6 separate regions of the Homo sapiens genome follow, and all the other regions are reported to be linked to region 1. Evidence: microRNA targets listed by miRTarBase, many of them from high-throughput screens and not tested one by one. Region 1 holds a microRNA gene; each other region holds the end of a gene's coding sequence.

Region 1 (4,089 bases):
TCAATAATTACCCCCAAAACAAGTTTGAATAATCCTTTATTGAAGGAAAAAGCCATATTTATCTAAAAATACTAATGAGTCAGGAATATGGCTTCTCTGACTGGAATAGCTTAGATTTTCATCCTCTTTCGTAACTCCCTACTTCCCAGAAAAACAGGTCTGGAACGTGAAAAAGTATTTCCTATACGTTGTTCAGAAAAATACTTTATAAAATTAGAATTTCTTCACTCACTTGTAAAGTATCAGGTATGGCTTCAAAAAGTTCAAGTAGTTTGGTAAACCCATAGTACGCAAGTTTGCACTGCCGGCCAAAGTGGTGATGGTAAGAAGGGATAAATTTATTAAAGGGCATCCGGAAATGGGGTTGGTGACGCAGCAAATCAACGACATCCTTGGAGAACTGTTTTGTCCTTTCTATTTCATCCTGAGTGCGTTCTTTTAAAAAAACCAAAAAACATAAAATCACAGTTTTTTTCTACCCATTTGTGTTCAACATCCACACTAGAGTAAATCCTTTTGGGAATTTATAAACGATATCATCCTTGCCTTCCAAACACACACAACCTAAAACAAACACATATACTCTTCCCTCTTTGCAAGTGGTTCTCAAACATGTTCCAGGGCAGAACACCAGGAAGTTATGATATTATTATATTATGAAATTCATATATATTCATCTTATAAGCTAGAAACAATGTCATCTTATAAGCTAGAAACAATTTTCTAGCCCCTGCCCCATATCTATTAACATGACACACACCCAGGTCCCTGTACTTAAGCAAGTACTCTAGAAATTATTCCCATGAAATCACGCTTCTGAATATCCCCACTTTTTTTGTTTATTCATCTGATCTTCAGTTAAAACTTGCTAGCAGAAGAGAGAATCAGGCTTCAAAAGTTGAACAAAAATAAACAGGAGGGAAAGCTTAAGCTGAGATTGTTTCTATTAATTTTTAAGTGAGAATGGGCCCTGGAATTCTATGATTTCATGGACATCAATGTTCTGCAGGAGCACCGTTTAAGAACCAGATAATAGAAGGAGGATACGACCATACAGTCACCCCTTGGTGTTCTCAAGGGATCGGGTCCAGGACCCTGCCTGGATACCAAAATCCGCACCTACTCAAGTCTTGCGGTCTGCCCCGCGGAAACTGCAGACACGAAAAATTGGCCCCCAGTATCCATGAGTTTCGCATCCCTCAAATACTGTACTTTCTACCCGTAACTGGACCTGTGCAGTTCTGACTTCAACTATTAAAATTTGAAAGGCAAAAGAAAAAAAAACATTCGAGTTGTCTTCCCTTCTCAAGTGTGCACAGTAAATAAAGTAGCTCAGAGTTCAACAGAAGAGCAAAGCCAACAGGCACGGTGACAGATTCTCAACTGGATGACTAAGGCTCATGTAGCCACAGCCAGGCTGCAGAAGGCATTTGAGCAAAGTGCTGATGATGCCCCTTTTTCCCCTTAGAGTCAATTCTAAAAAGCCAGCCTGCTTTTGTTCTTGAGAACAGCTTCACCTACTTTGAAGAACACAGAATCCAAAGAGCAGCAGTTTTCACACTGTGCTTTCTGTGGAATCTTCAGGAAGCACGGACAGGGAGGGAAAACCACATCTTCCATGCCACACTATGTTAAAATAACAGGAGATAGACAATATCCTTCCAGCAAATGTTAAGTCACATACCTCTTTTGGGGATACAAATCACCATTTCATTATCTTGTTGGGACAAGCAGATGGTTGTGTCTGGAATCTCTGATACGATGTCAATCAACTCACAAACACCATATTCAGTGACATCCCAGTCCTTTGAGAAACACCTAGGTTTTAACAACGGAAGTGGATACGGAATGAGTAGTATCATCGGTAGAAGAACTACAAGTTTTCCGGCCGGGCGCTGGGGCTCACGCCTGTAATCCCAGCACTTTGGGAGGCCGAGGTGGACGGATCACGAGGTCAAGAGATCGCGACCATCCTGGCTAACATGGTGAAACCCCGTCTCTACTAAAAAATAGAAAAAATAAGCCGGGTGTGGTGGCGGGCGCCTGTAGTCCCAGCTACTCTGGAGGCTGAGGCAGGACAACGGCATAAACCCGGGAGGCGGAGCTTGCAGTGAGCCAAGATCGTGCCACTGGGCGACAGAGCGAGACTCCGTCTCAAAAAAAAAAAAAAAAAAACAAAAAACTACTACAAGTTTTCCAAAAGAATGCTTAATAGAAATACTAGATAACTATTTAGAGTTTGGCAGAAGATAAAATGTCCTAAAATATTTACTTTCATTTCTGTTCTTTTCATCAACTCACCAGTGATAAGCCTGTGAGAATTCTCTCACAATGACCTGTTTGCTGGCCTGGGATTTGAGAAGTTTTAGTAAATCCTGAGTAAAGCGCTTCACCTGGGCCCTGTGGGTAAGGGTCAGCAGACGTTTGGAGCCCATTCCAAGAATCTGCAAAGCAAATAGTTTATTTATACACATAAGACCTCAGCAGACAGCGACTTCCTTGCTGCTGGCTCACCCTCTCGTTACTAGCCTCAGAGCATGACTCCCTTTATGTAGAATGTGTGCAATTTGAAACACATGTCGATCAACAAAATGTAGTTGGTCAAAAGGAACAAATGTCCAAGGCCTTCTGAAACTCTTATCGTTTTTGGCCTGGCACACCTTCTCCCAAACAGTCGTTGAGTATAAAAATGAAAAGTGTAATCTTTTGAAAAGAAAAGTCGTGAGTACAGAAATGAAAACTGTATTGGTTGTCCAGACAAATTGGTCTACAAGTTTTTCAAGCCGTTTTTAGTGAGTGGGAAGCTGTTATAACACTGTGAGTTAACTGGTAAAAGTCTTCATAGGATCCAGTGCTACACTCTAGCCCAGTAACTTGTCTCCAACTAGTTAAATTTAGAAGAAAGGTTAAGCCCTTGACTCTCACATAGGCACCAACATACAAGTATGTGGCTATTCATGGGAGCTTCCTTGTAATCATGAACAGTTCTGGAGAAAGCTGTGCTGGGATGAAGAAGGTCTATAGAGCTTAGAGGGAAAATACTCCTCAGTCCTCCAAGGAGTTCCTCTAAAACTGGAAACTAGCAGCGTTCTGAAAAATTGAGAAGCCGCCTGTGTGTGTTATTCCTGCCCTCTGAAGAAAGTTTTTAGTGGATGTTCTGCCCAGAACTGACTTCTTAGGAATTAAACTGTTTCTTTGATGGAGGCAGCCAAAGCCATGGAGGAACATTCCTGCCTGTAAACAAGTAATCCCGTGACACGCCTTACCTGCAATACATGAGGCACTGCTTCTAATAACTCAATCAGCTTGGAGTATCCGTAGTCTGACACTCGGCACTGCTTTGCAAAATGATGGTGATAGGATGGGATGAAATGACTGATGGGTATGACACAAGATGGCTGGCTTTTCAGCAAGTCAATCACTTCTCTACTGAACTGGATCAGCTGGGGGTTACCTACAGGACTCTTCGAACGCAGAAGCCAAGGGTCTAGAAGAAAAAGAACGTGTATAAGACAGAAAGCACAGATTTCACCAGCTGAAAGAAGGGAAAATGGCCCTGCAGTCCCTGGCTTGAGTTCGATCATGGGGAAGCAAACAAAACCAAATACAGTAGCTGCTTTACGTCTCAGTTTCTATATTCAGGTCTCATAGTCCAATAACTAGCTAACTAACTTATTCACGGGCTGTCAAATGCTGTCCCACTAATCCTCAAAGTTAAGCGGCCAAGGTAAAGCAGAGTCTACTATAGTGTTATTTATAGCAGAAGTCAAAGTACACAAGAAGCTCCCAGTTTAGAAACTAGTTATATTTCCAAGATCCTTCTGAAACTTGGTCATGTGGAACGTACCTTTCCACAAAGTTATAAATGGTCATCAGGTAGGTGGCCCAGAAGAGCAAAATTAATCCATAGTGGAGCTGAAAACGTTACCCAGAAAACCACAGAAAGTGATAATGTTGTAAGATTAGCATGACATAAAAGGGTGTAAGGAACAGGTTTTTGCACCATCTTGACTGCTTATACCTATTAAAAAGGTATAAGTAATCAAACGGAAATCTTTATAGAAAGGTGGAGAGGCTTGCTGGTCGCGG
Region 2 (4,089 bases), not on the chromosome of region 1:
TTCACTTGGAATTGTGCATTTTATTCCATTTTTGAAGAAGTTTTATGAAACAATATCTGTATAAAGAAGCAACCGAAGACCTAAGTCAAACTTTTGGGAAAAGTTAAATTTATTGAACAGGAAGTAACTGAATAAAGTCAGTTACCTGGACTCTTTACAGTAAGCAATGAATGTAATAAATTAAAGGGAAATTTCTAAAGAGCAAAAAGGATAAGAAATGGGACAAAGCTATAATAAATGTGTCAGAAGATTCACACAAGTGAGACAGCCTAAGAAAATGGTTACTATACAGAAGCTCTTCTGTAGAAGTCTCAACACAGTGGACCACAGGTGAGACCTTATAAATAGGTGGTTAAAGCTTACATCAGAACGTAATCTTACTCTGCTTTAGAGCTCTCATCCCAGAGAGGAACACTGCAATTTTAATTGTGTAAACATGGAATAAGCCTCCAACCCAGAACTCCATTTTCACTGGAACATATAATTCATACAAATAATTCAAGGGCAACAAATGGGACAAAACCTTCGGTGCAGGTCAGCTCTCACTCGACATAAGAGAAACCACACTGGAAGAATGCCTTATAAATTCCACACATAGAAGAAAACCCACAAAACTTTATTCAGGGGTCCAAATAAATTGGACCTCAAAGAATTCAAACCCATGCATGCAAAAAAACAGGAAAATCTTTAGGGAGCTGTCAACCTCCACTGAACACCACAGAAATGATCAAAGAGGCTAGGTGCGATGGCTCACGTTTGTAATCCGAACACTTTGGGAGGTGGAGGCAGGAGGATCGCTCGAGCTCAGAAGTTCGAGACCAGCCTGGGCAACATAGTGAGACCTCGTCTCTACAAAAAATAAAACATTAGCTGGGTATGGTCGTGCGCACCAGCTACTCAGGAGGCTGAAGCGGGAGGATTGCTTGAGCCCAGGTCGAAACTTCAGTGAGCTATGATCGTGCCACTGCACTCCAGCCTAAGAAATTGAGCAAGACCCTATCTCGAAAAAATAAAATAATAACATAAAGAAATGATCACAGGCAGAAACTGTATGCACACACCGAGTGTGGAAAAGCCCTCTTGTGGAAGTCAGTTATTTGTGTACATCAGAAAATTCTGGAAGGAGAGAAACCTTGTGAAGGTACTAAATATGACAACATCTTCAGTAACAGAGGATGTCCCCCTGTACCCAGAATGGTGCATGCTGTGGAGATACCCTGCAAGTAGACCGAATGTGAGAAAGCCACAGGAGTACATGGGCCTCGCGGTGCATCAGAGTTCCTGCCAGAGAGGCCCACAGGCATGAACATGGCAGAGTGTGAAAGTCGTCTGCGGGAAGCCAGGACTCTATGCCAGAAACTTCACACTGGGGAGAAATCCTCAGTGCAATCAGTGTAGAAATGCCTCTACTAAGAACTGCTTCTGATTCTGAATCACAGAGTTCACAGTGGAGAAAACCACATGAATGTAAAACTGTGGAAAAGTTTTCAGCTAGAAGCCAGAGCGCACTGCACACCAAAGAATTCACACTGGGAGAGACATGAGAAAACAGCAAATGCAGGAAAACTTTCCCTTGGAGATCAGAGCTCACTGATCTCAGAGTTCATACAGGAGAAGAGCCCTATACAATCACGAGGGTGGAACCGCCTTTGGCAAGAAAACACGCCCCATTACCCATGAGAGAGCTGCACAGGAGAGAAACCCTATGGAATAAATAATTCTGGAAAGCATTCAGCAACAAATGAAACGTCCTAATGTGCACTATAGAGAAGCCCTAGGAACACAACAAATGTGGAGAAGGAGAGTCAGTAGCGCAACAGAAATGTTTCTCAGAGGAGAAGCTTTTAAGTTAATTACTTAAAACCTGCAGAAGCACCTAGTCCCACGGTCAAAACCAACTGCGCACCAGAGAAGCTGCATGGGAAAGTTTGTATGTTGGATAAAGTGTGGTTCACCCTCAAAACTAGCTCCAGACATCACAGACTAGAGAATGTATACTGATCTTAAACAGTGGTCAATTTAACAAATGTAAATTCTACTCCCAGGGACATAAAACTCCATAACTTAAACCAAGCTTTTTGTAAAAACTATCAGTGAAAAACAAATGTGCGTGCATCTGCAGCCCAAGCCTCTTCCTCCCCAGGCCTGGCGCTCAGCTTGCAAATGGACTTCCCAGTACCTATGAGGAATGAAGGGTTTCCATACCCGTCCTGAGCCATCCACTTGGGATTCACCCTCACCACGGCCATGACTCTCTGTCACTGCTCCCAACCTGGAGCTCCTAAACCCATCCCCAACCCGAACACAACACAAATGCACCCCTGCTCCTTGTTCTCACATCACTAACATTACACACGTGTATCTGAATTTCTTCAGGTTTGGGGGTTTTTTTGGTGTTTTTTTGTTTTGTTTTTTTGAGACAGAGTCTCGCTCTGTCACCCAGGCTGGAGTACAGTGGCACAATCACAGCTCACTGCAACCTCCACCTCCCAGGTTCAAGCGATTCTCCTGCCTCAGCCTCCCAAGTAACTGGGATTACAGGCACCCACCATCACACCTGGCTAATTTTTGTATTTTTAGTAGAGACAGGGTTTCACCACATTGGCCAGGCTGGTCTCGAACTCCGGACCTCAGGTGATCCACCTGCCTCGGCCTCCCAAAGTGCTGGGATTACAGGTGTGAGCCACCATGCCTGGCCAAGGTTGGGGTGATTTAAGGGAGTACACAGAGGGGAGGAAAACAGCTGTACTCTAAGTCTGACCTTGCCCAATCCCGGGGGGATGGGGGAAAGCCCATGGCATTGGGAATCTCATGGGGGCGCACCCCAGTTCCTCAGCTCACTCCCGCGCCCACTGCAGGCCCTTCCCATGCTCACAGGGGTCTCACCCAGGGTCTCTCCCTCCGTGCCAGAGGAATCCTACCCAGGCCTGAGTGCCTCCATCCAGATGCACAGCCCCAGGTCTCCTCTTGCTGAGACAGCTCCTCCTCCACTCCAACCCCATGTTTCATTCTGGGGTCTACACGTTCTTCCACACTGCCCAATCCCCAGGTTATGGGGGTTGACTGAGGGGAGGAAATCTCCCGCAAACCAGGCAAAGCCCAGGGCTTCATCATCCTCTTTGGACTTCGGATGAGAGAATAAGTTTAGTCCCTTTCTAGAGCTAGAACCTTCTCGGTGGCTGTTTCCCACCATGGGAAGCGAGTCTGGTCTGTGGTGAGGAAGCATGAAGCTCACATGCTGGAATCGGGGTAGAGCTGGGTCCAGTTCCTTCTCAAGGCCAGCCCCACCGACGCGGAGCATGGTCTTGGCAAACTCCCTGCCACTGACTGTTCACCGTGGACCCGGGCTCTATACAGCTTCCACCTCGAGGCAAGAGGAAGAAAGGAGAGGCAGCAAGCAGTCCCGTTCCCACCTGCCCTGCTACTTGTGGGCCTCTGCATCCTCGCCCTTGGGTGGGGCTGCCACCGTGGAGGTGGCCTTGAGGCTCCGCTTTCGCTTCTGCACATTCTGCTCTGGATGGAAGAGGATGACGTAGGTTTTGGGTACGTAGAGCATGCCGAGGGACACCGAGGCACTCAGGCTCAAGGACACGGTTAGCGTGGTTGTCTGGATGTAGATCTAGGCCATGGAAGAGGGGACCAGATGGGACTCAGCCCTGCTCTCCCTGCCCCGCTCCACACAGTCCTCACCACATACTCTGGAGCTGAGTCTGTTTCAGTTGGGGAACTGGGAATGAGCACTTAGACCAGGACAACAGTATGAGCAGGGGCCCCGCGCCTGAGGGGCTGGCAGCCTCCATGCAGCTCTGGTGTGGGCAGGAGGGAGGGGTGAGGAGGGGTTATTAACAGAGAGACACCTGGGGAAGCGGGAGCCGGGGCATGTCAGTGAATGAGCACGTTTCAAATACATACAAATGAATAAATGGGCAGAGACAAACTTCAGGAGCAGATGGGCAAATAAATGGATGACAGGTGCATAAAATATTCTGCCGCATACGTGAATAAATGATGCAGCAATGGGCTGACGCATTAATGGGTTGGCAGTTATAAAGCACATGAAGCCTGGGCGCAGTGGCTCACGCCTGTCAT
Region 3 (4,089 bases), not on the chromosome of region 1:
ATGGGTATAACCGAACAGCCCTCCACTATGCAGCAGAGAAAGATGAGGCTTGTGTGGAGGTCCTATTGGAGTATGGTGCAAACCCCAATGCTTTGGATGGCAACAGAGATACCCCACTTCACTGGGCAGCCTTTAAGAACAATGCTGAGTGTGTGCGGGCTCTCCTAGAGAGCGGGGCCTCTGTCAATGCCCTGGATTACAACAATGATACACCGCTCAGCTGGGCTGCCATGAAGGGAAATCTTGAGAGTGTCAGCATCCTTCTGGATTATGGCGCAGAGGTCAGAGTCATCAACCTAATAGGCCAGACACCCATCTCCCGCCTGGTGGCTCTGCTAGTCAGGGGACTTGGAACAGAGAAAGAGGACTCTTGCTTTGAGCTCCTCCACAGAGCTGTTGGACACTTTGAATTGAGGAAAAATGGCACCATGCCACGAGAGGTGGCCAGAGACCCGCAGCTATGTGAAAAACTGACTGTTCTGTGCTCAGCTCCAGGAACTCTAAAAACACTCGCTCGCTATGCCGTGCGCCGTAGCCTGGGACTCCAGTATCTCCCCGATGCAGTGAAGGGCCTTCCACTGCCAGCTTCTTTGAAGGAATACCTGTTACTTTTAGAATAGCCGGAGAAGATGTTTGCACCATCGTGCAGGCAGCTCTGGGTGAGGTTGTCCCTGCAGTACTCCTTGTCACAGAAAACAGAAAAACAGTTGTTCCTGTTGTGTGGTTTATAGATTTCGAAGCAACATGTCACAACAATAACCTCCATAGCACCTCCCCTTCCCAAACCAAACAACCCAACAAAAAAAATCCCTCACTTTTGTTTTCTGTTTATTGCTTACCTGGCTTTTTATATTGCATTTTGCAAAAGAAGAGGTCTCCCTCAATCCTCCCCTTTAGGGAAGGAGTCAACAGTGTAACTAAATTTCTCTAGGAAGATGGAAAGTACTTAAATAATGTGTGTGTGGTTTTCCTTTGGGGACGTGGTTAACGGTCCAGAAGAATCCCTTCTAGAAAGCATTTTAGGCCAGCCATGGTGGCTCACGTCTGTAATCCCAGGACTTTGGGAGGCTGAGGCAGGTGGATCACCTGAGGTCAGGAGTTCGAGCCCAGCCTGACCAATATGATGAAACCCCGTCTCTACTAAAAATACAAAAATTAGCTGGGCATGGTGGCATGCGCCTGTAATCCCAGCTACTCAGGAGGCTGAGACAGAAGAATCGCTTGAACCTGTGAGGCAGAGGTTGCAGTGAGCCAAGATCGCGCCATTGCACTCCAGCCTGGACAACAAGAGCAAAACTGTCTCAAAAAAAAAAAAAAAAAAAAAAAACCATTTTAATTGATCTGTGAAAAAACTTAAGAAAATCACAATTTCAGCTAACAGCAATTGTGTCCCAAAGATGAAGATACTATAACCTCAAATGGTGCAGATCCAGAACTGGGCTGGATGACATCCCTACTGTGCCATGTCCTGGGGCATTTGGAAGGGACTGGACCTCTTTCCCCTCATCAAAGGAAACAGCAGTCTTTGCCTCTTTCTGTTGGTTGTGCCCAAGGGCTACAGTAGCTCTGAAATAACAAGAGCTCTGTAATAACAGTAATAAATAGCTCTGAAATAACAGTCCTAAGAACTCCTAAAGTCCTGAGAACTTTTCTTGTAATGCAGCTTTTTCTCTTCCTGAGAAACAGTGTGTTCTAATGGGATTCCCAGGCAGTTCCTACACCTACGGTGTGTGTTCCAGCAGGGAGGAGTTATGGGCTGGGCTGCCTTTTCCCATGGGTCTTCATTCCCAATGGAAAGTTCACTCTGCTTAGTTTGGAATTATTTTTCTTTCAGTTGTTCTGGAACCTTTGCTTTTTATTGATTTATACAATACAATTGGTGGGAGGGTGGACTTGGGATGGGAGTGGGAAAAGCATGTAAGAGCTCCTTTTGTGATGGTCCATCTACCCAAAAGAGATCTGCTTTAGTGAACGATACTCTTTCATTTTTCTAAATTAGATCAAGTTGTTATTGATTTTAGATGACTTGTATGCAAATTTGAAAAACTTTTTTTTTTAAAGCTGATTGGGAACTACAAACAATGAATGGAATCTACTGACACAGCTAATTGGAAAACAGATGTCTTCTTCTGTCCTATTGATGCTGGTGTTTAAAAAACATCACTTAAAAAAAAAGAATAAATAGTTCTAAAAGCAAGTTTGGCAATTTCTACTTTTCCTACTTTTCTCCAACCCCCCTTAGAAAAAGTTCTTCGTTTACTGCCTGGCTGTTCTATGTAACTTTCCATCCCAACCTTTCTCCCATTAGCAGCAGTGATTCTGGGCATTGCTGGAGTGAACAGGAGGGCTTGGGCAGAGTATCTGAAGAGCTTCCCCTTCCTTTATACCTTCTCCCACCCCAAATTTGGAATTACTGCTTTTATGTTCTCAACTCCAGCTGCACATAAAATCACTAAGGAAGCTTTTTAAAAACACTGGTGCCAAGATTTCACCTCATACCAATTCTTTGGAATTTTCTGGGGTAGGACTGGGGGCTTCAGTGCTTCAAATATAGCCAGGAATGAGATTCCACTGTGTTAGTCAGTGGTTCTCAATCCTAGTTATTAATTAGAACCACCTAGGAAAATTTTTAAAAATACTAAAGCCCAGGCTCCACCCCCAGAGATTGATTTAATTGGTCCAAAGCAGACCTAGTAGGGCTGGCCACAGTGGCTCACGCCTGTAATCCTCACACTTTAGGAGGCCGAGGTGGGAGGATCATTTGAGACCAGGAGTTGAAGTCCCCATCTCTACAAAAAAATAAATGAATAAAGTAGACCTGGGCATGAGTACGTTCAAAGGTCCCAGGTGATTCTAATATTCTGGTAGATTTATAAACTGCTTGAGATGCTACTTCATTTCTCATCATAGATACTTAATATTCTAGAAAGAGAAAGTTTTGTCCATGTGGGAAAAAATGTTACCTGTTTCTCAGTTACTTCATAATCACTTATGTGGTTGGTGGCTAATAAATTCTGCTTCACCTCCACTTAAGAGTTCAAACACAATTTCACTTATCTTTTTAGCTCTGGGGAAATAGCATGCACCTTCATAGGTTTTTTTTGTTTGTTTTTAAGTGGTCTTCACTATGCCTTTTTTTCCCAGATCGTATCATCATCCTAAATTTTTTACTCTTTACAGAGTGACATTTTCCCTCTGATTAACTTTCCCTGAGCCATCCTTCCCTCTTCATTTTCTTGAGGAAACAGCTCTAAGATTAAAGACAGGAAAGAGACAGAGAACCTATAAATCAATGGCAATTAGCATTTAAAATGTTCTGAATGAATGCCTGAACCTTCCCTTTCACTTTGTTTTCATAGGCCTTATGGCTCTGGGGATTTGATATGGCATGATAAGGAAGCAGGAATGGGGAATGAGGATGAGGTTTGAAGTCAGAACTGAGTTTGAGTTCTACTTGAATAATATTGAAGGAGACATTATGTAATCAATCACCTTGAGCTCCAGTGTCCTCCTTTCTGAAGTCAGGCTGTCACCATTGCCCTCCAAAAGCTACTATGAGGATTCAATGATGAAATGCCTACCACAGTGCTTGATATTTATTGTTAATTTCTCTTCCCACTAAAGAACTGTGCAAAGAGTATTTGGCTGCCTTATTCCCTGACTCCAGCAACAAACCTTCTCAGTCACTATTTAGAACTGTTTTTAGAGTTTGGCAGTGACAATTTTTCAGACAGCCAGCAAGTAGTGTACTAGAGATAATCCCTTCCTCCACCCCCTGTGATACCCTTAACGTCTTTACTGCTTCATCAGACAAGTGTCTGATACATGGGGCTGACAGTATTACATTCCACTTAGGAAGATGATAACAGGAGAAGCAAAAGCACAGTGACCAGTTGGCATTTATTAGTGTAGTTACAATTTGTCACTGTAGTAAAAGTAGTAGAGGAACCAAGACTCTTTGTTATCACAAAGAAATAAATAAAGCTTATTTTTAGGAAAATTCTAACTGAGTAAGTGATATCTAGCAGTAGCACTAGAGGTGCCCAGCCTTGTGTGACAGATAAAGCTGGGGCAGAAGTCATGTTAAAT
Region 4 (4,089 bases), not on the chromosome of region 1:
ACATCCGCAGGGTGTTCAACGACTGCCGCGACATCATCCAGCGGATGCACCTCAAGCAGTATGAGCTCTTGTGAGGATGCTGCCGCCACCCTGCGACGGAGCGGCGCCCCGGACTGCCTGACTGCCAGCCCCATGCCATGGTAGGAGGCAGAGTCTCTAGTTCCATCTCGCTGCCGTCTGTCCCGTTCTGTGTCGACCACCAAGCCTCTGGCTACCTCTGTCCCCTCAGGTTTGGTTGTGTAGCTTCTGTTGTCATTGAATACGGCCTCCCGCAGCATCCCACCCCCAAACCACCGACTCTCATTGCCGACACTGCAGCAGAATCTCTCCGGGTGGGAGCCCCATTATTCATTCTCCCTTTATTGATTCATCGAGGAGAACTTGGTAGATGGGGAGAAAACACAGTTGGTTTTTTTTTCCACGTTATCAACCGTGACTGCAAGAGCGTTCGTGCAGTGCCCTGAGCCACGGCCGTCTCTGATTCTCCCTTTATGAAGCTGCAGGCTGACGAGAGATGGTCCCTTCCCATTGGCCTTAGCCCAAGACTTGGAGTCGACCCCAAGCGACAGAGTGACCAGAAACCCTTTTACAGTCACATTCAGAGTCGCTGCTGGCCTCAGGCATTTGAATTAGAGCTACTTTGAGCCTCTTAGGCAGAAAACCTACCACATTCACTACTGCAAAATGTGTCCTGTCTAAAAATGATTCTCTAAACTTTCCCTATACTTAGGCATAGTCTTCTTTCTTAGATTCTCTTTGTTGTTGTCCCTATTGCTGGTTTATTACACTGTACAGACCACAAAATGTAATATTCTTTTGTATAACTACTAAAGAAAAATCCTTGTAGATCTTTGTGCCTTCACCATGGCTATCTATACCTGTACATGAAATGTGTTTGTATTGTGCTGAAGAGCTTAATGTCAACATTACCTGCTGCTTACTCTGAAAAAAGGAATGAATGGTAGCTGTAGAATTTAGGATATTTTATCAGGTTGGCACTTTATAAAATACTCCCTGATTTAAAAAATTGTAAGTTATACACGTTAATCATCCACATTCTATCGACAATGTACCAACATCACAAGCTGTTGCAACCACCTGCTGTTACTTCTCTGAGCTGTAAAAACCTGAACTCAATTCAGGGGTACAAATTGCAATCTAATCTTTTCAGGGAACCAGGGATTTTTTTCTCTCTCTCTAGACAATATGTTTCCTCATTAGTCTGCTAATGAAACACTTCTTCAAGTTCCCCAAGTGGGAACAGGTCCATCATTCCCTTAGTCAAAACTTTGGACACAGGCTACGTCATACAAGTAAGCAAACAGTAAGAGAAAAACAAAATGTGGCCAGGCGCGGTGGCTCACGCCTGTAATCCCAGCACTTTGGGAGGCCGAGGCAGGCGGATCACGAGGCCAGGAGATCAAGACCATCCTGGCTAACATGGCGAAACCCTGTCTCTACCAAAAATACAAAAATTAGCCAGGCGTGGTGGCGGGCACCTGTAATCTCAGCTACTCGAGAGGCTGAGGCAGGAGAATCTCTTGAACCTGGGAGGTGGAGATTGCAGTGAGCCGAGGTCGTGCCATCGCACTCCAGCCTGGACATCAAAGTGAGACTCAGGCCAAAAAAAAAAAAAAAAAAAACCTTGACGTGTCAATGTTTGTGTCTGGCCTAGGAGAATGAGGATGACAGCTTCACTTGCCTTTTGAAGAAGAAACATTACAAAACCTTAATCTGAAGTATAAAGTCAAAAGATACGGCTCTTTCTCACACTTGCAAGACTTACAAATACAGCCTCAAACATTATGACACACCAACAATATCTAGAAAGTAAGAACTGGTGTAGCAATGATGCTTCATATTCTAGCTGTAGCCACAGAGTTGAGGGTAGTTTTTGTAGGTCTAAAATAATAATCTATAAAGATGTCCAAAGTTAAATTTTCAACAATACAAATCTAGAGAAGTGACAGCCTACATTACTTCATTATTACTCTTCTTTTAGTCTTTAGTCTTTAATATTTTAAAGTTTACTCTATAAATCAGCATTTTGTAATCCTTTATAAACTCATCCAGATTTAAATGCTACTTTTTCATGAAGAAAGGATAACTTTATAGACAGTCAGTGCAACACACACATTTTATCTCATCACCGTCTTACTGCCTCCCCATCCACTGTCTCATAAAGCCCTCAGCTGAACTAAGATAAATAATACAATGGAAATTATTTTCAGTTCCCCTTGCACTGTCAAAGTAAAACAAGAAAACTGAAAAGCTGCACCCCCAGCAAGAAAGGGAAGTATGCTGTTGTATGCATCATTACTCAACAATTACCCTCTAACTAAACATCCTGTTTAAGAGTTTAATTCAAACAACAGCCAGACTGTTAAGAAAAAAAACAAAAAGAATAACTTTTATCTGGCTTACAATTATTAAAGCATTTATTTTCAGGTACCAAAAGCCATATCCCATTCCACTTTTTAAGTTTCTTTTGATCACTGACAGGCATTAACAGATGTAGCAACGTGGTCTCCTATAGAGAAAATTACACTTATCTAAAAATCTGATTCCATTAATTGATCAAGTATAAAAATCTACGAAAACAATATGTTCTGCACATCACATCTGTACTTTTTTTTTTTTAAATATATTTTTTGAGACGGAGTCTCACTCTGTTGCCCAGGCTGGAGTGCAGTGGCATGATCTTGGCTCACTGCAACCTCCGCCTCCCGGGCTCAAGGGATTCTCCTGCCTCAGCCTCAGCTGGTATTATAGGCACTTGCTACCATGCTTGGCTAATTTTTGTATTTCTAGCGGAGACGAGGTTTCACCATGTTGGCCAGGCTGGTCTTGAACTCCTGACCTCAAGTGATCCACCCGCCTCAGCCTCCCAAAGTGCTGGGATTACAGGTGTGAGCCACTGTGCCCGGCCACATCTGTACTTTTAAGGGTACAGCTTTACAGTACATAGGAATTTGAGAACCACTTCACAGGAAGAGGGAAACAGCCCAATATTTATTTATGTATACACATAATCCCAAGTGTGTGCTGGGGCCACCAGGCCCTTCCTGGGGGAACAAGGACTGTCGTGCATGTGAGTGACGACATTAATAGCATTTACATACTGTACAGATGCAACCTTTGATGATACATATATTTGATAAAAATGAGAAAACAGATTTGTTGTAGAGTACCTGTCCACTTTTATAGCATGAGAACAGTACAATCAACTATTTATTTTGCAGTTACTCATTTCAGTGATTGAGAATTTCTGTGCTGTGCAGAGAGACGGCCTGTAATTGGTCTCATCATCCACTTGATTCTAACATGATCTCTGCCCAAAGTTCCATTTCTTGGGCTTTGATATTTATAATGGCGCCTGCTCTTCATCTTGTCTTACGCTTTCCGAGCAAGTTCAAACCAGAAAGAAAAGGTGAGGCTAGAAGCCCAAAGTGAGTGAGTGTGAGGACCACAAGGAAGCCCACCACTCCACAGTAGATGATCAAAACCACATCCTCACGTGGGAGGTAGCACTTGGAGAGGGTGTAGTCTGTGGGCGTGATGCTACCCTGGAAAGGAGAAGGGAAAGTTATGCTGAGAGCACCAGGCACACGTTGAACACCGCAGTCTTAGAAACAGCAGAGGGAAGACTGCCTTCTCAGGTCCCCCTCAGGTGAGGCAGGGAACGGGCCCTCCTCACCTGAGACCAAGGGGGCCCAGCCTTCTCCCTGCACAGCTCACCCCCGACCAGCCCAGGCTCCAGCAGGAGAGACAAGTAAGGCCCAAGTGTGCCTGAGTGGAAAATGTCTGGGACACTGACCTGTCAAAACTGGCCCCTGGCTCACTGGGTTCCCATCAAATATAGTGGGGGATCCATAACAGAGATTCAGAGAGGCACCGTGGAGTTCCAGGGTCATCGGTCAGCGAGGAACAAGGAGGGAAAGGTGTCTTCCTGCCCCTTGATGCTCAACTAAGCATCTGTTCCCTAGAAATACATGTGTCCAGGTCGTCTCCATGGGCTTTTCTTTGCAGATACTTTTATGTGGAACAACAGTGGCAAATGTTTTCATTTACTTTGAATTTGAAAATGTT
Region 5 (4,089 bases), not on the chromosome of region 1:
GCTCCTTAAAAATAGTACTCTCTCATTAAATCTAATTTGACAGAAAGAAGTTTAAGGGAAAAAGGAGTGCTTTGTAAGTGAAAAAGTACAAATCTTTGGCCTTTCTCTTGACATTTTCGTATGTCAAAAAGCAAAAAACCTTCATGTATTTCAATCTAGTGATTACTTTTTGCACCATAATTTGTTTTTTACACCACAAAAGGAGGCACTTTCAGTATCTGTAAAAGGTATTTAATCCTAAAACATACTTACCTAGAGAATAATTAAAACAGAATTCAATACAATCTAGTATCTATTAGGAAATTAAGAGTTATCACTTCTAAAAGTCATTTGAAAGTCAATGATGTTATCTGGTCAATGGCAGGAAATGGGAACTGGAACAAATATAAGAACTTATGGGATTTCCTACACGGAGACAAAAAAAGATATTCCTTTATGTTGTTTAAAAGTGGCAGCTGCTCTTTCTTTATTCCATTTTAATCAATGAGTATTGATTCAAGTTTTCCTTTCTATTTTTCCTTATGATAAGTTTCTTACAGTAGCTTATACAACAACAAATAGCATAGAAAAACTACTGGATTCAATTGATCATCAGGAATAAGTTCTCAGAAAAACACAGGCGGAAAAATAAGCAAGAATCCCAAATACAGAACTTTACAAGCTGTGAAACTTGGTCTCTTGCAATCATGTTACTGCTCAAATTAGAGACAATCTTATTGCTGTCTATTGGAGCAGCATCGTGGCACATCAGCAGGCAATGATGATGTTGAGAACAGCAGCAAAAATAAACAATCGTATGCTCATGAAGAACCCAAGCCTACAAAATGGATACCTTTCAGAAAAGTATATACTTAAAAGACCCAAGACGTCAGGATAATAAAGCTCTGTATTTATAATCTTTTATATGTCCTATTGTGGCTATTATGCTTAAGTAAAATAGCTAAAGAAAAAAAAGAAAAAAAAAACAGAAAAGATGACAATATCATAAAAATGTAGCTGTCTATTTTGGCAGCTATATTGCAGAATTTCTTGACTATCTTTTAATCAGCTGGGAAAAAGTCAATAACTGTATGCAAATGAATAAACTGTCCATATCAAAATACAAAAGTACTATCAATAATCACCTCTGACTTTCAGATTTAAATTCAGTGCAATTGACAAATGCATCACTAAAGGAAAATGCAGCTTAAAAGATACTCAAAACATTTGTGTCTATTCCTGGGAGCACATTTTAAAATTATTGCACAGATTTTTTTAATTTTTATTTATTTTTTTTAAACAATAACAGAGGTCAACCACAGATGTGGACCTCCAGCAATAAAAGCAGGAATTCAAGTGCCAGATACTCAGCATATTAGGTTTCCTACGTAAGTCACAGGGTAATATGTTCTAAATATCTCTAATGTGATCCAAAACCCTAAAAAGAGCTGGCACAAAACCATCGTGAATGACTGCCTCTCTTGATGTAAATTTTTAAAAATATTATTACAGTATCATAGTCCCCACTAACAACAACTGGGGTACATATAACAATGTATTGTGAAATTAAGTGTATTTATTCTCTTTACCAATAGCAAATGCTACCCTACCTTAGTAAAACCAAGACTTGCTTCAATCAATGCTGTTTTGTAAAAATAGCAAAGCAACGAATGCTGAAATCAATCAAAGCTGCATTACTTGGGTTAAATCAGTTTCTACTTAGAACACAGGTTAAAATTTTAGTACTAAAAGGCCTCAAAATAATTAGTGACAGAAATAGTGTTATTAATTTGCTAAGCTCAACAATAAGCAATTCCTTAATTAAAATCTTCGAGATATAAATTTGATGACTATTCTCTTCAGAAATGACATACCTGGATTATGTTAATCATGACAAGCCTTATTAGTCACACATATAAACATGGCCTCATGCAATCATTTGTCTGTATATGTTACTCTAAGTTGCATGAGCACAAGGTTTAATATCTATATCTTTAAGAAAATACTTGATATTATAAACAGAGTAAAAGACATGATATAGTAGTGATTACTAAAAAAAAAAAAATTAGCAGCTTAAATCTATCTATATTTGAAAAAACGTAGTCACAAGTACCACAAATGCAGAATCAGAGCAGCAGGAAGAAGGTTAGTGCAATTATACTTTCATTAAAAAAAATTCTGAATCACTGCTATTTAAAAACACCTTGAAGCAAGTCTTTTGTTTGAGATTGTTTTTTAAACTAAGGTAGCAAACATTTTGCCATGTAATGGCAGTGTTATATGCCGTTATCTTGCTTTGTATAAAGAAAACAACATGAGAGATTTTTAATACTGGAGTTTGGTTACATTACATATTTAAGCTTCTACACAGAATGATGGACACTTCGAGAAGCTAATCCTTATCCAGAAACATTTTAATCTCTTAAAAAACAAAGCAAAACAAACAAACAACAAAAAACCCAAAACTACGTTGCTCCTTTTCACAATAGTGCACATTTTTACCATAATTTAGTTATGGCTACAAAACATCAGAAGATTTTTTTTAATGTATCTTCTCTATGGTAATTAAAAAAAAAGTTGTGCCCTTCTAGTCTTTAATTGGCAGAAATATGTCCCAAAAAAGAAACTATTGCATTTAAGCCACATCACCAAAAAACAAAAAAGAAAAAAAAAAAAAAAAAGCAAAACAAAAAAACAAAACCAACAGAGCATAATACCCTTTTACTGATGTGTCTTACAGATTGACATGACCAAAGTCATAGGTTTTCATTTAATTTCCAATTCCCCCTTCCACAACATGCACCAACTGAATATATGCTCTGGGAGCCATAAAATGTACCAAACATCTACCTCTTCAAAAGAATGCATTAAAATATTTTAAAGAATTTTTTGTTTAAAAGGTGAAAAAAATATAAACAAGAAACTGATTCACTCCCTTACTTCATGCATCCATAATCTAAACCAAAAACGAAATTTTAAAGCAAGAACAAACTACTGCTGCAAGTTTTTGTAAGTCCATTTTCTCTGTACATACAAACTGCTCACTACTGAAGGGAAAAAAAGAATATAATCCATGGTGTCTGCTGATTCAAAGGGGAGAAACAAGGCTGTCATTTAGTATCCAAAAACTGGTACATGTATGTTCTGCTTTTATAATGTATATTTTTCTCTCTTCTGTTTTTCATATCCAAAACTTCTAAATGCTATTTTAGGGGCACAGCAGATTAGATTCCAGCACTTGGTGAACAGAATTCACAAGCTGTGACAAAACTCTGTCATCTTCAGGGTGCAATTTTGTTTATATACACTGTATGTATATATTTCTTTTAGATTTGGCTGTAGTGGACTGGCCATGGTTCAAGTGGGACTATAGCAGTACATGGGTCAGGGACAGTCATTTTGGCTATGTACACATTCATAGTCGGTCCATGGCTTCCAACTAGTAGCGCTATTTCCGAAGGTCTAATACACAAACCTGTAAGAAATTAAAATAATCAACCAGTGTATTCAGAATTTTATTGTACATTTTATGTTTAACTTTTCTATAGTACAATTTGAAATGTTTCTTAGTTCCAAGTTTATAAAATTGGTAAAGCATAATAATCATGGAAATGAGCACTTAACTGACAGAAATCAGACAGATCATTTAAGCAGATCAAGAGAACAACCATGAGCTCAAACTGTGGGGGAAGAACCACGGCTAGGATTTTTATACTCTCTGTTGATTAAAAAGGAGGGGGAAAATGCTCAAAACAGACCATTTCCTATCTATTGGACCCTAATGAAAGATATCACAGATTATATTCAGCTACAGCATCAGTAAATAGCTACCCTTTTCCCACCTTCTGGTGCTTCTACAGCTTTGGAAGCCATATTTGCATTGTTGTAAAGAGTTGGCTAACCTCATCCTGAAAATCTTTCAGTATCACACATTCCTCAACACAGGAACCAACTGCCTCTAGTTCTGCCTTCCCTGGGCCAAAAAAATTCTTCTGTGAAGAGGAGAAGGTAGAAATACACATTAAACATTTCAATCCTTCTCAGAATGTTCCTCTGGTATACCTAATTTCATAAATGAAGGTTCATATTAAAAATAACTGTCCATTTCTA
Region 6 (4,089 bases), not on the chromosome of region 1:
CCTTCTTTCATAATATCCTTTGAAACCGATATTCACCCATTTAAGTGATGAAGCTTCAGGGCTCAGAAAGAGTGAGAAATTTGCCAAAAATTCTACAGCCAATCCAAGCAGAGCCAGGACTCCAAGGTAGGACCTGCGCCCAGGTGTGTAGCCTGTACCCCGAGCAGCTCCAGCACCGCCATCCACACACAAGACACAAATGAGAGCGTGCTCTCCAGACCTGTACAGCGCATGGCCTGCCAAGCTTTAGACCAAAGCCCCGACTCCAATCCAGGGGCCCGACTACAAAGCTGGTATTTTTCTTTACTCCATATCAAGCCCTTGGCTAAGAAATGGGGATTTCCAAGCCCACAGCTGCTCTTGTTTCTCCCCACAGTGCTCCTACATCCCAGGCAGCGTGGACAATTACCAGACGGCCCGGGCCGACGTGGAGAAGGTCAGAGCCAAATTCCAAGAGCAGCAGGTCTTCTACTGCTTCTCCGCACCTCGGGGGAACGAAACCAGCGTCCTATTCCAGCGCCTCTACGGGCCCCAGGCCCTCCTCTTCTCCCTCTTCTGGCCCACCTTCCTGCTGACCGGTGGCCTCCTCATTATCGCCATGGTGAAGAGCAACCAGTACCTGTCCATCCTGGCGGCCCAGAAGTAGAGCCATCCATCCATGCCATACCACTTGTCAGGGCACAGGGGACTGGCTGGGCCCCCAGGGCTGCTCCCCACTTGCAGCACAATGCCTTCTCCACCTGCCCTCCCACTCTTCCAGTCCAATCCACGCTGTCTTCTGTTGCAGGACTAACCTTTGAGAAATCCTTTTGTGAAGTCATTGCCTGCTCAAGAATGTACAGTGGCTCCCCAATGCCTTGGAGGCCATAAGGCCAGCCAGTTCTAGCTCTCTATTACCTGTCCCCACTCAACTGACTCATACCTGTTTCCGGCTGCATCACTATGTGCCCCACAGAGAACGATGATCGTCACCTCTGTGCCTGAGTTCTCCCTGTTGTCTCAAAGCGGTACCCATCCTCCCCCAGAAGCTGTCCCCAGCGAGCCTCCCTTCTTTGTTTGAATTCTCTAATAAGAGCAACAGCAGCTCCCATTTCTAGAACACATTTACAGTATTACTATTTTCTAGGATATAAAGTGCCATATATATTTTTAATTCCAATATTAATAAATGTATGCCAAACAACAATCAGCTGCAAGGAAACACATGAGAACTCATCAAAATTTTAGCGGTGGGATGGTGGTTAATTTCTGTTTTCTTCCTTATCCCCTTTTTATTTTTGCTGCTTTTCTAAATTTTTGATTATAGGAAGGGTGTGTTTCGTTTGCTTTTAATCAGAAAAGCCATGGTAGATGCCATTTTGGAAAAGTTGAAAGAGTGTGTCCCCCTCACAGAAAAAGATGGAAGTGGGTCTGGGGACGGAGTTGGGTTCCAGTCAGAGACAGGCCATTCAGAACACACAATCTTAAAAACCCCTCTGGGCCGGGCGCGGTGGCTCACTCCTGTAATCCCAGCACTTTGGGAGGCCGAGGCTGGTGGATCACGAGGTCAGGAGATCAAGACCATCCTGGCTAACATGGTGAAACCCCGTCTCTACTAAAAATACAAAAAATTAGCCAGGCGTGGTGGTGGGCACCTGTGGTCCCAGCTACTCAGGAGGCTGAGGCAGGAGAATGGCGTGAACCCGGGGTTCGGAGCTTGCAGTGAGCCGAGATTGTGCCACTGCACTCCAGCCTGGTGATAGAACAAGACTCCGTCTCAAAAAAAAAACAAAAAACAAAAAATGAAAAACAACCCTCTGGAGGAAAGGTCATGATATAGAGGAGGATTTGTTATTTAAATTGAGGGTATGGACTCTGGCACTGAGCCTGCTGGGGAAGCCTATCTCAGATTTGAAAAGGGCAAAATGGGAAGAAGCCATCACCTTTACCATTCCCACTCCAGGAAGTTTTCCTAGAACGATGACTGTCCAAGTGTGGTCCCTGGGCCAGCAGCATCAGGATCCTGTGGCAGCTTGTGAGAAATGCACACTCTCAGGCCCCTGTCCCAGCCCCACCACGCCAGAAGCCCTGCACGGGGTGGGGGTAGCAATGTTCTGTGTTCTAACAATGCGTAGGGGATTCTGTGGCACACCTCGAGCCAGAGAACTACCGGTGTAGGAAGTGAGCGTCCTGTCGCGAGGATTTTCAGAGCAGGTGAGTGACCATTCGGCAGGGCCAGTCCTGAGCTGGGTGTGAAGTTAGGCTGGTGTCTGAAGTTTCTTCCAGTGTTGTGAGTCCAAGATGCAGATCTTGGGTTTGAATCCTGTCTCTACTCTGCCCGATTTCATCTCTTTGATTCTTAGTTTTTTCATCTATAAAAGAAGGACTCTTTCTGGATAGTTGGGAGGGCTGAAGGAATGTTTGACACATCATAGGTGTTTAAAATGGCAACTATAGTTTTTTTTGTTTGTTTTGTGTGTGTGTTTTTTTCTTAACTTTCATTTTAAGTTGCAGGGTACACGTTCAGGTTTGTTACATAGGTACACTTGTGTCAAGGGAGTTTGTTGTGCAGATTATTTCATCACCCAGGTATTAAGTCTAGTACCCATTATTAAAGAAAATGTGGTACGTATACGTCATGGAATATTATGCAGCCATAAAAAGGAAGGAGATCATGTCCTTTGCAGGGACATGGATGGAGCTGGAGGCCAAATATTATCCTTAGCAAACTAACACAGGGACACAAAACTAAATACTGTATATTCTCACTTATAAGTGGGAGCTAAATGATGAAAACACATGGACACAAAGAGGGGAACAACACACACTGAGGCCTATTGGAGGGCGGGAGGTAGGAGGAGGGAGAGGATCAGGGAAAAAGAGCTATTGTTAGTAACAAGAAAAAGTCGGCCGGGCGTGGTGGCTCACACCTGTAATCCCAGCACTTTGGGAGGCCGAGGTGGGCAGATCACGAGGTCAGGAGATCGAGACCATCCTGGCTAACACGGTGAAACCCTGTCTCTACTAAAAAATAGAAAAAATCATAGCCGGGCGTGGTGGTAGCCGCCTGTAGTCCCAGCTGCTCAGGAGGCTGAGGCAGAAGAATGGCGTGAACCCGGGAGGCGGAGCTTGCAGTGAGCCGAGATCGCGCCACGGCACTCCAGCCTGGGTAACAGAGCAAGACTCTGTCTCAAAAAAAAAAAAAAAAAAAAAAAAAAAAGAATAAGTCATGAATACTCAGAAACTTCCAGAAGTTATACTGACAATGTTATCTGGCATGTATGGGTGCTTATTTATTCTGTGCCAGGCACTGTACTAATTAGTTTGCCTTGGAAAAAAAAATGAGATACTCCTGAACCTGCCTCACAGATGATGAGAAGCAACAGAGGACAGTGGCTAAGTATGTGGACTTGGGATGTGCACTGTTTGGGTTCAAATTCCAGCTGTGCTGTTCACAAGCTGGGTGACTTTGGACGAATAACCTTTCTGTGCCTGTTTCCTCGTTTGCAAAACGAAACTGATAATAGTATCTTTCCATAGAGTTTTGGCATGAAACAAATTTTTATGTAAATTTCCTAGGATAGTGACATATGGTAAGTGCTATCTAAGTTACTATGAAAAACTGAGGCTGTAAGAGGTAACTGGCCAAGGCCATCTGTAAAGTGAGGGGCTAGGACTCAAGCCTGGAGCTGTGTGTTCCAGTACCTGGCATCTCAACCACAGAACTCAGCAGAGCCAGCTGTGAAGGGCTGAGGGACAGAGCCAGCTGTGAAGGGCTGAGGGGCAGAGCCAGCTGTGAAGGGCTGAGGGGCAGAGCCAGCTGTGAAGGGCTGAGGGACACAGCCACTCAAAGCCACAGGGGCCAGGCAGGGAGCTGCGTTGCATCCCTGGAACCCAGGTGCCCTCATGCAGGTTGGAGTTCTGAGGGGAGGCCCTGGCATCTGCACCAGCATCTGCCAATTCCAGCCAGGGAGCCCAGAGGTATCCCTGTGGCCTCCAGTTTCTTACCTGGTGGACCTTCCTTCCAAAGGCAGGCAGCTCATCATTCCCTGGAATTTTTTCCTTCTGGGGTCAGGGAAGTCTCAAAGGTCCTCATGTGAGTCTTTTAAG

Evidence for each region. The annotated mature microRNA hsa-miR-6506-5p reads ACUGGGAUGUCACUGAAUAUGGU and lies in region 1 at 1,782-1,804, opposite strand. An mRNA with a match to its seed (bases 2 to 7 or 8) in the 3' UTR can be bound and repressed. Matches are read on the target gene's strand: a 7mer-m8 pairs with bases 2 to 8, a 7mer-A1 pairs with bases 2 to 7 and ends in A, and an 8mer does both.
Region 2: the mRNA of GRM6 is a reported target of hsa-miR-6506-5p. Seed matches in the 3' UTR shown: 7mer-m8 at 2,665-2,671 and 7mer-m8 at 2,530-2,536.
Region 3: the mRNA of ASB8 is a reported target of hsa-miR-6506-5p. Seed matches in the 3' UTR shown: 7mer-m8 at 1,050-1,056 and 7mer-m8 at 1,185-1,191.
Region 4: the mRNA of MPPE1 is a reported target of hsa-miR-6506-5p. Seed matches in the 3' UTR shown: 7mer-m8 at 2,896-2,902.
Region 5: miRTarBase lists TBL1XR1 as a target of hsa-miR-6506-5p. Seed matches in the 3' UTR shown: 7mer-A1 at 2,798-2,804.
Region 6: miRTarBase lists KCNMB1 as a target of hsa-miR-6506-5p. Seed matches in the 3' UTR shown: 7mer-m8 at 1,506-1,512 and 7mer-m8 at 2,915-2,921.

The regions. Positions count from the first base shown.
Region 1 is chr16:15,609,291-15,613,379 of GRCh38, forward strand. It overlaps MIR6506 (microRNA 6506), which reads right to left and starts at 1,805; the gene lies at 1,740-1,805. MARF1 (meiosis regulator and mRNA stability factor 1) reads right to left here. Exons shown (of 27, transcript NM_014647.4): 17 at 3,267-3,487; 18 at 2,302-2,444; 19 at 1,685-1,818; 20 at 233-435. RefSeq lists an enhancer at 1,182-1,476.
Region 2 is chr5:178,978,236-178,982,324 of GRCh38, forward strand. GRM6 (glutamate metabotropic receptor 6) reads right to left here. Exons shown (of 11, transcript NM_000843.4): 11 at 92-3,619. The coding sequence ends at 3,422. It also overlaps a transcript of ZNF454 not described here. Among named protein-coding and RNA genes, the nearest start is that of GRM6, 15 kb to the right of the region's middle.
Region 3 is chr12:48,145,897-48,149,985 of GRCh38, reverse strand. It overlaps ASB8 (ankyrin repeat and SOCS box containing 8), which reads left to right. Exons shown (of 4, transcript NM_024095.5): 4 at 1-2,197. The coding sequence ends at 620. It overlaps PFKM (phosphofructokinase, muscle), which reads right to left. Exons shown (of 23, transcript NM_000289.6): 23 at 3,582-4,089. Among named protein-coding and RNA genes, the nearest start is that of ASB8, 9.6 kb to the left of the region's middle.
Region 4 is chr18:11,881,062-11,885,150 of GRCh38, forward strand. MPPE1 (metallophosphoesterase 1) reads right to left here. Exons shown (of 11, transcript NM_023075.6): 11 at 1,561-3,566. The coding sequence ends at 3,384. GNAL (G protein subunit alpha L) reads left to right here. Exons shown (of 12, transcript NM_182978.4): 12 at 1-4,089. The coding sequence ends at 74. Among named protein-coding and RNA genes, the nearest start is that of MPPE1, 25 kb to the right of the region's middle.
Region 5 is chr3:177,022,071-177,026,159 of GRCh38, forward strand. TBL1XR1 (TBL1X/Y related 1) reads right to left here. Exons shown (of 16, transcript NM_024665.7): 16 at 1-3,454. The coding sequence ends at 3,428. Among named protein-coding and RNA genes, the nearest start is that of TBL1XR1-AS1, 13 kb to the right of the region's middle.
Region 6 is chr5:170,375,261-170,379,349 of GRCh38, reverse strand. It overlaps KCNMB1 (potassium calcium-activated channel subfamily M regulatory beta subunit 1), which reads left to right. Exons shown (of 4, transcript NM_004137.4): 4 at 377-4,089. The coding sequence ends at 646. It also overlaps a transcript of KCNIP1 not described here. Among named protein-coding and RNA genes, the nearest start is that of KCNMB1, 12 kb to the left of the region's middle.